Homo sapiens: one gene and its partners. The protein of the gene in region 1 purifies or fractionates together with the protein of each later gene. This does not show direct contact. Each region holds a gene or a part of one and is shown in the gene's direction. Other genes may lie near its edges. The genes, in order: TTC33, SKIC3 and SLC4A1AP.

Region 1 (3,656 bases):
TTTTTAAAAAAGCAAATAACACCAAATTTATATTCACTTACTTTGAGTAGTAAGTGAATTAACTTTTTGGGAAAATAATTGTATGTTAAATAATTGTATTGAAAGTGCTTTGTAAAACATAAAATGCTTTGGAAATATAAGTGTTGCTATGTGGTCTGAAGTGGTACTCATAGTTAGTGGGCTAGAGCCACTGGAGGAGGTCTTCATGAAGAACGGAGCATTTTAACTTGGTCTTAGAGGAGGAGCCTTTGAATAGATGAAGAGGAGTAGGAAGGCAATCTTAGATATGTGATATGGTTTGGCTCTGTGTCCCCACCCAAATCTCACCTTGAATTGTAATAATCCCCGTGTCAAGGATGGGACCAGGTGGAGATAATTGAATTATGGCGGCAGTTTCTGCCATGCTGGTCTCATGACACTGAGTTCTCACGAGATCTTATGGATTTATAAGGGGCTTCCCTGTTTGCTCAGCGCTCATTTCTCTCTCGTGCCTCCATGTGAAGAAGGATGTGTTTGCTTCCCCTTCTGCCATCCTTGTAAGTTTCCTGAGGCCTCCCCAGCCCTGTGGTACTGAGTCAATTAAACCTCTTTCCTTTATAAATTTCCTAGTCTTGGGCAGTTCTTTATTGCAGCGTGAGAGTGAACTAATACAGATGTGTGTGTGTGTATGTGTAGCAGGGGATCCATACTAACAAAGGCATGATATGTGGGTAGGGACTATAAAAACCCTGCTGAGTGGAGCACAGGTATGTGTAGGGAGTGGTAGAAAAAAGATTGGACAAACAGTCCAACCTTTTCCTTCTAATGCTGGAGGAAAGACATTTGCTACTATTAAGTCTTGCAGAATTTATTACTGCTACCTTTGTTAGAAAATTGTGAGTGGAAGGATTGTTATGAAGGAATACATCAATAAATTAATTTCCAAAGTTTTTCCTGTCACATCTACAATAACATTTGGAAATATTGTTTAGAGAGGCTTGAAATCACCCACAATATGCCTAAAGAAGTGCAAGTACTTTCTTTTTAGGTGATATAGTTACTGCTTTTAGAGGTTATATCATTAAAGCTTAGTAGATGATGGCACCACAGTACTAAATTTATTTAATGTTGTATATACTTTTATTATTATTATAAATAATCAGAAATGGGTGTTAAATTATACTAAGTATTGTTTAGTGGCATGTACTTTTTTCTCCCTTATCTGTTACATATGAACCCATTTCTAAGTTTTTCTGAGCATACACTACATGATCATGTGGATTTTGTACTTTAGTAAGTTGCTGGACTTAATTTGCTAATCCTTTATTTTGGATTTTTACATATATTTCATGGACTAGAAAGTAGTCCAAAAAACTGTTGAACTGAAAGTACATGACTGCTCCTCCTGAAAGCAGTCTAAGAGTAGAATGGTGTTTGCCCGGGGGTGGAGGAGGGGGCAATGAGGAGTTATTGTTTAATGGGTATGGAGTTTCAGTTTGGGAAGATGAAAAAGTTCTGGAGATGAATGGTGGTGGTGGTTGCACACAAAGGTGAATGAACTATATGTACTTAATGCTACTTAATGCCTCTGAACTGTACACTTAAATGGTTAAGATGGTAAATTTTATATTTTACTACAATAAAAATTTTTTTTTGAAAGTCCAAAAAAGCATATTGAAAATATGGCATTGATATAACTTTAACAACCACAGATATCGGGAGGCAATTCAGAAGTGGGATGAAGCACTACAGTTAACTCCAAATGATGCTACCCTATACGAGATGAAATCACAGGTAATAATTATGAAGAATTTCACTTTCCTTATGAAATTGTGCTATGTTTGTTCGGTGAGTGAGCAATGATGAAGCAAAATAGCATTTTCTCCCATTTTCTTTTACAAATACGGTTTCTTTGGGAAAAAATATTTCACCATTATTTATGGTTCTGTCTTATGCATAAAACTGGAAATTCATTTGCCTTTACAATGAAGTTAACTGTTATTTTAGCCTAACTATTGTAAGATAGGAATCGGTGGCTATCTTTTAAAGTCACTGGTGGGCAGGTGCCATGGCTCACGTCTGTAATCCCAGCAATTTGGGAGGCCGAGGTGGGTGGATCACTTGAGGTCAGAAGTTCGAGACCACCCTGACCAACATGGTGAAACCTTGCCTCTACTAAAAATACAAATATTAGCTGGGCGTGGTGGCACATGCCTGTAGTCCCAGCTACTTGAGAGGCTGAGGCAGGAGGACCACTTGAACGTGGGAGGCGGAGGTTGCAGTGAGCTGAGATAGTGCCACTGCACTCCAGCCTGGGTGACACAGCGAGACTCCATCTCAAAAAAATAAATAAGTAAATAAAAAATAAATAAAAAGTCACTGTTGAGCTCTTAGATGAAAAACATACGCTTTCCTTGTGATTAAATATAGTAGACTTAGCAAAATAGTTCAGTTTTCTTAAAAATGAGGATGGATTGGGTTCTAGATGAGATATTTCTAAAAATGGCTTAGTCCTTAGCAAAAGGTCAGCATAGATGCAATTTTATTAATAGCTTAAAAATAACATTTGTACTTTAAAAACATGTTTCTAATATTTTGTAGGAAAGTCTGTAAAGAAAACCTTTGAGCACTTGAATAGGTTATCCAAGTGATTTTAAAAGTCTCACACAGAGCATTAAACATATTTTTGGCAGGGAATTGTTGCAATTCAGCCTTAATCTGCACACCTAACAAATATTTTTCAAATCGTGATCTCAAATATAGGACACACATTTGTCACCTTTGACTTTAGTTTATCCAGGAAAAACCCAAATAAATTATGTCATCTGAATCAAGTGATATGAGGACCTTCATTTGTATTCCTTTTTCAATCTTAAATATGTATATATGAATGACAGGTTTGTGGCAAGCTTTATGAAGACTTGTTTAATTTGGAACCTGATAATAATGTTTGTATCACAAATCTTTTAAAGTGTTAATGGTCCTAAAGATTATAGATAAAATCCAGCCTCTTCCCACAGACCACAGTGGAGGGTACTAGAACTCTCTGGTAACCCTAACTCTCCCTAACCCTAACCCTAACCCTAACCCTACCTTCCTAGTATGTATGGTTTGAAATGCCCAGTAGTGAGAAGGCCTAGGGAATGTTTTAAATACTTTTTATAACATAAAGATGTTCATTAGGGACGGGATGGCTGGTTGAACAAATTAATTCACCTAGTTTAATGGCAATACCTGGGGTTCCCTGAAAACCACATTGTAAATAGAATAAATGGAAGTGGAATTGGGAGTTCAAAATACCTCTGAGCCACCATAGTTAGGATATGACCACTTGGTTTTGACCAGATGGACATAAGATTCAATAACTGGAAAGGGAATCGTTTACATTTTCATAGTTATATAAGGGGTGAAAAGAGAACTATAATTTCTTACCCTGAATGGCAGAGTAAGGGGTAAAAATCACCGAAATGCTATTTTTACTGGACTAAAAATATATCTTAAAAAATGAAAAGGGTTTTTTATGTAGTTGCTAGTTTATGAATATTACTGACAGATTTTTTGGTCTTTTTTTGCCTATAGGTGCTAATGTCTCTTCATGAAATGTTCCCAGCAGTACATGCAGCAGAAATGGCCGTCCAGCAAAATCCACATTCATGGGAGTCTTGGCAGACTTTGGG
Region 2 (3,656 bases), about 55 Mb from region 1:
TGCTCTTAGTAGTGGCTGGCATCCTAGATGCATAGGAAAGAATAGGAAGGAAGGAGCAGTCTGCTAGTGGAACAGCAGCTCTGACACCATGTGTTAGTGTTCTCTTTCAGTAGGCCTGGAAATGAGTATCTTTAATTGGAACCGATTGGGAAATAGGGCTTCAGGTGCTCAATATGCTGTACATTCAGTGGTAAGAGCCAATTGTAGGATTATTAGTAGGTCTTGAAGGTAAGGGGAAATGACAATCTGATTGCTCCTGAGGAGAAACTGTGAAGGAAAAAAGTGATGTGTCTAATAACAAGAAAGGAATCAGAAAATTTTGAGTAGATTTGGCATTTTATAGAACTGTGAATTCATTGGTTAGGTCAGAAAAAGTGTTATCTGTGGTAGAAGACTTCCAAAAGTCCACAAGTTAGATGTACATTTGAATTTTTTGTAACTCTTAAACATCTTTCTTCTACTTCCCCTCTTTTCCTGCTTGGTTTCTCCTCTGTTTTGTATTTATTGGTTGTTCCAGAATTGCTTTTCATATGAACCAAATATGAAATGAAAACCTAACCCTTTTTTATCTCACTGAATTTTATTGCTACTTTTCAAGTCTCACATAATGTAGTTCTTTCTAAAGGGAAAGTTACTGTGTAAAGGGCATGCTTTATTTGAACTGCTATTTAAGAGTAAATGTGAACCTTTGGGTGACAGTACCTTAGCTATAAATACTGCCTCTCTGAGCCTAGGAAATGTTATTCTGGATAACATGTAACATAACCCATTAGAAGGTGGCATATAAAACAATTATAATCTCCAAATGTATATTTACTTCCAGACTTACAAGGCGTTAATACTATCACAATTATTGTGTAAGGGTGATATAAGTTACTTCAATTTATAGATATTTTATTTTTATTGAACTCAAAATAAGAATTTAGGCTCTTAAAATCGCCTGTTTCACTTTTTTCCTCTCTTCTCATTTTTTGCTGTCAATTTTAGAAATTTTGCTAAGATATTTAGGCAAAGGAACTCCAAATCATATTGCCCTTCTTTCAGATTCTCAGTGGGCTTTTAGTTATGACCACAATAATTAATATTATTTCTTAGGAAGACATTGGAAAATTATTTTTGGCTGGACTCCATGAGTAGAAAAGGCTATGAAAAATGTTCCATCTGCTTTTCCATCTGCCAGTAACATAGCAGCTTGTGATAGCTGATTATTGAGACTTGGCTTAAATGAAATTGCCATGTGTTATTTATAAGATCTCGAGAAGAGAAAAATGAAGAAAAATGTATAGCTGAAGTTTTTCTCATTCTAAAAGGAATTGCCCTCTGTCACCATAATTAATATTTCTCTTTGCTTTTTGAGCTTGTTCATTCAGTCTGCTCTTGTTTCGGTAAATGTAGTTCTTCAGATTTTTATGTTTAGATTTTTGTTTTTTTTTTTTGGTCTCAGGGTATTAATGTTCAACATCACCAATCATCAGGAAAATGCAAATCAAAACCACAGTAAGGTATCATGTCACCCCAGTTAGGATGTCTGTTATTCAAAAGACAAAAAATAAAGGCTGGCAAGGATGTGGAGAAGAGAGAACTCTTATATGGTTTATGGGAATGCAAACTAGTGTAGCCACTGTGGAGAACAGTATGGAGTTTTCTCAAAAAACTGCAAATAGAACTACCGTATGATCCAGCAACCCCACCACTGGGAACTTATCCAAAGGAAAGAAAATCATTATATCAAAGAGACATCTGTACCCTCATGTTTATTGCAGCACTATTCACAATAGTCGAGATATGGAATCAACCTAGATATTCAACAACAGATGAATGGATAAAGAAAATGTGGTATTTATATGCAATGGAATACTATTCAGCCATAAAAAAGAATGAAATGCTATCATTTAAGGCAATTTGGATAGAACTGGAGGACATTATGTTAAGTGAAATAAGCCAGGAACAGAAAGTTAACCACCATATGTGCTTACTCATATGTGGAAGCTAAAAAAAAAATTGATCTCATAGAAGTAAAAAGTAGAACAGAGGATACTAGAAGCTGGGAAGGGTAGGGGGAAAGGATATATGGGTAATACTTGTTAAAGGACACAAAATTACGCTAGATAGGAGGAATAAGTTCTAGTGTTCTGTAGCATTGTAGGATGACTGTAGTTAACAATAATATATAGTTTCAAATAGCTAGAAGGAGGATAGTGAACATTCCTAACACAAAGAAATTATAAATGTTTGAGATGATTAATATGCTAATTACCCTGATCTGATCACAATACATTATATGTATCAAAACATCTCTGTACCTCATCAATATATATAGTTATGCCAATTAAAAAATAAAATTTACAAAAATCTTTCAGATCTTACCAAATATATTTGGTATATTTTATTTGAGGTGTCTTCATCAATTTTTTGCTGCCATAACAGAATACCATGGACTGGTTAATTTACAAAGAACAGAAGTTTATTTGACTTGGTTCTGGAGGCTGATAAGTCCAGGAGCATGGTGCTGGCATCTTGGTGAGGGTCATCCTATGGCAGAAGGGCAGAATGCAAGAGAAAAAAAATGGGACTGAACCTACCCTTTTATCAGGAGCTGACTCCTGTGACAACTAACCCATTCCTACAATAACAGTATTAATCCATTTAGGGAGGCAGAGCCCTCATGACATCATCACCTCTTAAAGGTCCTACTTCTCAACATTGTTGTCCTGGAGATTGAGTTCCCAACTCATGAGCTTTGTGGGGATGTAGTCAAAACTACACAGCATGAGAGAAGATCTAAAAGCAAAAACCTGAGTTTACAACTGTCAGTTGTAAGAGAGTTACAAACTTTACTGCCTTGGTCATTGCTTAAACACAAAAAGCATAGTTTTAACATTTTAATATTAAAAGGAAATTGGTCCTGGAAAACTTATTTATTTATTTGCGTGATTGCTGCTACTTCTAATAAAAATGGTGAAGAGTAACAAAAAAAAGTGTCCACAAAATTTCTGGCACTTAAAGTAATCCCTTCCTCCTTCCCTTTCTCCTTTTCTTCTTCCCTTCCTATTAGGGAGGTGATATGATATGATTCAGTTAGGAGGAGACTAGTAAAGTACTTAATGTACAGTTTTTCTGTTTTAAGTAATAATCAGGGAGATAAACTTCATGCTTTTTATAAATAATTTGTAAGAATCACAATGTTTCTTTTTTTAGTGCTCTACAGCATCGAGCTGATGTGTCCTGCCTCTGGAAGCTAGCTGGGGATGCTTGTACCTGTCTGTATGCTGTCGCACCATCTAAAGTGAATGTTCATGTTTTAGGAGTCCTTCTAGGTCAGAAAGAAGGAAAACAAGTATTAAAGAAAAATGAGCTCCTCCACCTTGGAGGAAGGTAATTTGCAAAGATTGCCAGTTAATAACATTTGAATTGAATTAAGGCATTGTAACAAAAAACATTCACTTTTATATTCCCGTAGGTGTTATGGTCGTGCATTAAAACTGATGTCTACATCTAATACATGGTGTGACCTTGGAATTAATTATTATCGCCAAGCACAACATCTAGCAGAAACAGGCAGCAACATGAATGATCTTAAGGAGTTGCTGGAGAAATCTTTACATGTATGGTATAAATAAATTTTTTATAAACCTTTTCAAAAACATAATGCTTTT
Region 3 (3,656 bases), on another chromosome or scaffold:
TGTATTTTGCTTTTTTTTTTTTAAAGTCTGAGTAGAGCATCATTTATTAATAAGGCTTATATTATATTTTTATTATTGCAAAGTAACTTATGTCTGGTTCAAAACTACCAAAAGGCTTATAATAAAATATACTTGTTCCTTGCCCTACCCATCCTCAGTCTTCTTCCCTAAAGGCTTTCAGTTTTTTCAGTTATTTATTCTGGCATTTAAAAACACCTGTATTTCTTGGCCGGGCGCGGTTGCTCACGCCTGTAATCCCAGCACTTTGGGAGGCCAAGGCAGGCGGATCACGAGGTCAGGAGATCGAGACCATCCTGGCTAACACGGTGAAACCCCGTCTCTACCAAAAATACAAAAAAAAAAATCAGTTGGGTGTGGTGGCAGGTGCCTGTAGTCCCGGCCACTTGGGAGGCTGAGGCAGGAGAATGGCGTGAACCCAGGAGGCAGAGTTTTCATTGAGCCGAGATCGCGCCACTGCACTGCAGCCTGGGTGACAGAGCAAGACTCCGTCTCAAAAATAAATAATTAATTAAATTTAAAAAAAAACAACAAACACCTGTATTTCTTTTCTTTTCTTTTTTTTTTTTTTTTTTTGAGATGGAGTCTCACTCTGTCACCCAGACTGGAGTGCAGTGGCATGATCTTGGCTCACTGCAACCTCTGCTTCTCGGGTTCAAGTGATTCTTCTGCCTCAGCCTCCTGAGTAGCTGGGACTATAGGTGCGTGCTCCACACCCAGCTAATTTTTGTATTTTTAGTAGAGACAGGGTTTTACCATATTGGCCAGGCTGGTGTCGAACTCCTGACCTCATGATCCGCCTGCCTTGGCCTCCCAAAGTGCTGGGATTACAGGCGTGAGCCACTGCGCCCAGCCTAAAAACACCTGTATTTCTAAGAACAAGAGTATGGTGTTATATTTTTAGTCACTTATTTTAGACGTTACCTGTCGACTCTGCTAAATTAGTATTTAGTATTTACGTGATTATGCTTATGCAAATATTAGTTATAACTGAGCAGTTTTATTTCTTTTTGTTTTTCCTAAGGGTAATAATTGCGTTTGCTTTTCATGTGTTTGGGGCTTTTTTGTATTTCTTGCTCATTCCTCCCACACCTTTCAGTAGCCTCACCACATCAAACAACTTAATGATTAAGTAATTTATCAGTTCTGATTTGTTTTGGAGACACTTTTTCTGAAGAGCACTATTTTTCTTTCAGGGCTTATTGCTCTGCAGATCTGCTACAGAACTGTCACCTGGGACTTAACTTTCCTATCATCCTTAAGATTTCTTTGTCCTTTCTCCAGGGTTGACTTTTCTGTTTCTTGATTCTCATATTCTCATATTTCTTGGTTTATTTCCTTGCACAGTAGTACATCCTTCTGTACTTTTAGCAGATTAAAAAGCTGGTACAACACTAGAGGGCATGGGTGATGATAGTCTTCAATGAATTTCACATCTTTCCTTTTCTTGGTCTACTCTCTTGTTTTGGTGGACATCCTCTAGTAGATTTCAGAGAAAGAGTGTATAGGAAATAAATTTTATTAATCCTTCTCTTCTGAAAATATAATTATTGTAGCTTCACTCCTGATTAATAGTTTGGCTGGGAATACAATTCTAAGTTGGAAACAATTTTTCTTATTTTACATTCAGTGTTGCTTTTGAGAAATCCTAAACTGTTCAGATTTTGATCCTATTGTATGTCATCTTTTTTTTCCGCCTTGCCAGAGCTTGTAAGAGTTTCCCTTTGTTCTAAAGGTTCTAAAACTATGAAGTACTTTTCTGTGGGTCTATTTTTCTTCATTTTTCTGGGTACTTGTTGGATCCTTTTGATCTAGAAACCTTGGCTGTTCAGGAAGTTTTCTGCAATTATGTCATTAATTGTTTCGTCCCTCTGTTTTCTATGGAATTTTATTATTCAGACATTGGACCTCTTGGACAGACCATTTAAGTTTTTTTTCTTCTTTTTTTCATCTGTATGTCTTTTCCTTCTTGAGAGATTTCTGCACCTTTATCTTTCTGTCTTCTCTATTTTGCCATCAAGGTTTTAATTTCTTTCTCTTTTTTTAAAGTTTTTAAAATCAGGCAGTCTTTCATGCCAGAGAAGGCTCAGAGACTCCAAGGTTTTAATTTCTAAAAGTTCATTTTTGGTTTTTGAATTGTCCTTTTTAAAACATAATATCCTCTTGTTTCATGGGTTGTAAATATCTCCTCTCTGTTTTCTCCATGTTATTTTTCTTTTTATGTGGTCTCTGTTCTGCATGTTAAAGGCTTTTCTTAGGTGTCATGTAATTCTTCATTGTAGTTTTTTTATTTGGGGATGAAAAAGGTGATTGACAGTTTGGAATATATAGGTGGGGTTTCTGCATGGAATATATAGGTGGGGTTTGTTGACTTTGAGCAGTACTATTGAATGATGTGGGTGGGCCTTTTGTTGGGGAACCCTTGATTTAAGTATCCTTTTGGTTTTCCTCGTCTGTGAGCGAGATTCCCCAGAGAGTGCTCTTCCAATCTCCTGCCTGAAACGAAAGGACTGGCTGCCAGCATTCCTAGAGCTAAGTGGTAGAAGGTGGCTGAGTGGCTTCTCATTCAGCTGTTTTCAGGACAGTACTATTTTTAGATTATAGTGCCCATGCCTTCAACTTTACTAGTCAACTCGTAATCCAAAGGCTTTCTGTTTTACCCTTTCCAGAGATTAACCTCTGGATTTCTACTGCAGATGGAAAGGAGATGAGTAGGCAGGGAGGAAGATCTATTTCTCAACCAGTTTTTACTTAGTCCTCCATAACCTTAGTATCCATCCCCAGTTGCAGATCCGTTTGAGGATTCTGCAGTGTAATCACTTTGGCTCTCAGCTTTCCCCACTGTTTAGGATTTATCTTTTTAAATTCTGCTAAGTTAGTTTCTACTCATCTGTCTACTTTCTAATTTTCTAAAATTTGGGTCTTTATGAATTTCTTTCTCTCTCTCTCTCTCTCTCTCTTTCTTTTCTTTCTTTCTTTCTTTTTCTTTTCCTCCTTTCCCTCCCTTCTCTTTTTTCCTTTCCTTTCCCTTACTTTCCCTCCCTCCCTCCCTCCCTCCCTCCCTCCCTCCCTCCCTCCCTTCCTTCCTTCCTTCCTTCTTTCCTTCCTCCCTTCCTTCCTTCTCTTTCCTCTATGCTGCCCAGATTGGAGTGCAGTGGTCTGATCACAGCTCACTGCAGCATCAACTTCCGGGGCTCAAGCGATCCTCCCGCCTCAGCCTCCTAAGTAGCTGGGACTACAGGTGCACACCACCATGCCCAGCTACTTTTTTTAGATTTATTTTTAGTAAAGGCAAGGTCTTGCTATGTTGCCCAGGCGTGGGTACATCTCTTTACTATGGTTTATTGGGATTTAGGGAAAGAGGGAAATTAGATATGTGTGTTTAATGTACCATCTTAACCTGCAAATTAGGCTTATATTAATAAGGACTATTTTCCTTGCAAATAATAGAAGTCCAATTCAAACTAGCTTAGGGGAAAGGTCATTGGCTGCAGAAGCTGGGAAGAATAGCTCAGGATGAAGGAACAGGAGTGAAGGAACAACTGCATGAACCAGAACCTCAAGTTCTGAAACCATAACTTAGTACTACCAAAGTAGACTCAGCATCACCAGGACATATACAAGTTGTGTGTGTGTGT

What was found.
Region 2: the proteins of TTC33 (region 1) and SKIC3 purify together in Homo sapiens (affinity purification with mass spectrometry, with the first as the bait; one large-scale study listed by BioGRID). This does not show direct contact.
Region 3: the proteins of TTC33 (region 1) and SLC4A1AP purify together in Homo sapiens (affinity purification with mass spectrometry, with the first as the bait; one large-scale study listed by BioGRID). This does not show direct contact.

The regions. Positions count from the first base shown.
Region 1 is NC_000005.10:40,728,379-40,732,034, reverse strand, and holds part of TTC33 (tetratricopeptide repeat protein 33), read left to right. Parts: intron 1-1,691; coding exon 1,692-1,773; intron 1,774-3,558; coding exon 3,559-3,656.
Region 2 is NC_000005.10:95,516,865-95,520,520, reverse strand, and holds part of SKIC3 (superkiller complex protein 3), read left to right. Parts: intron 1-3,198; coding exon 3,199-3,375; intron 3,376-3,460; coding exon 3,461-3,605; intron 3,606-3,656. UniProt on the Homo sapiens protein: Component of the SKI complex, a multiprotein complex that assists the RNA-degrading exosome during the mRNA decay and quality-control pathways.
Region 3 is NC_000002.12:27,670,348-27,674,003, forward strand, and holds part of SLC4A1AP (kanadaptin), read left to right. Parts: intron 1-3,656.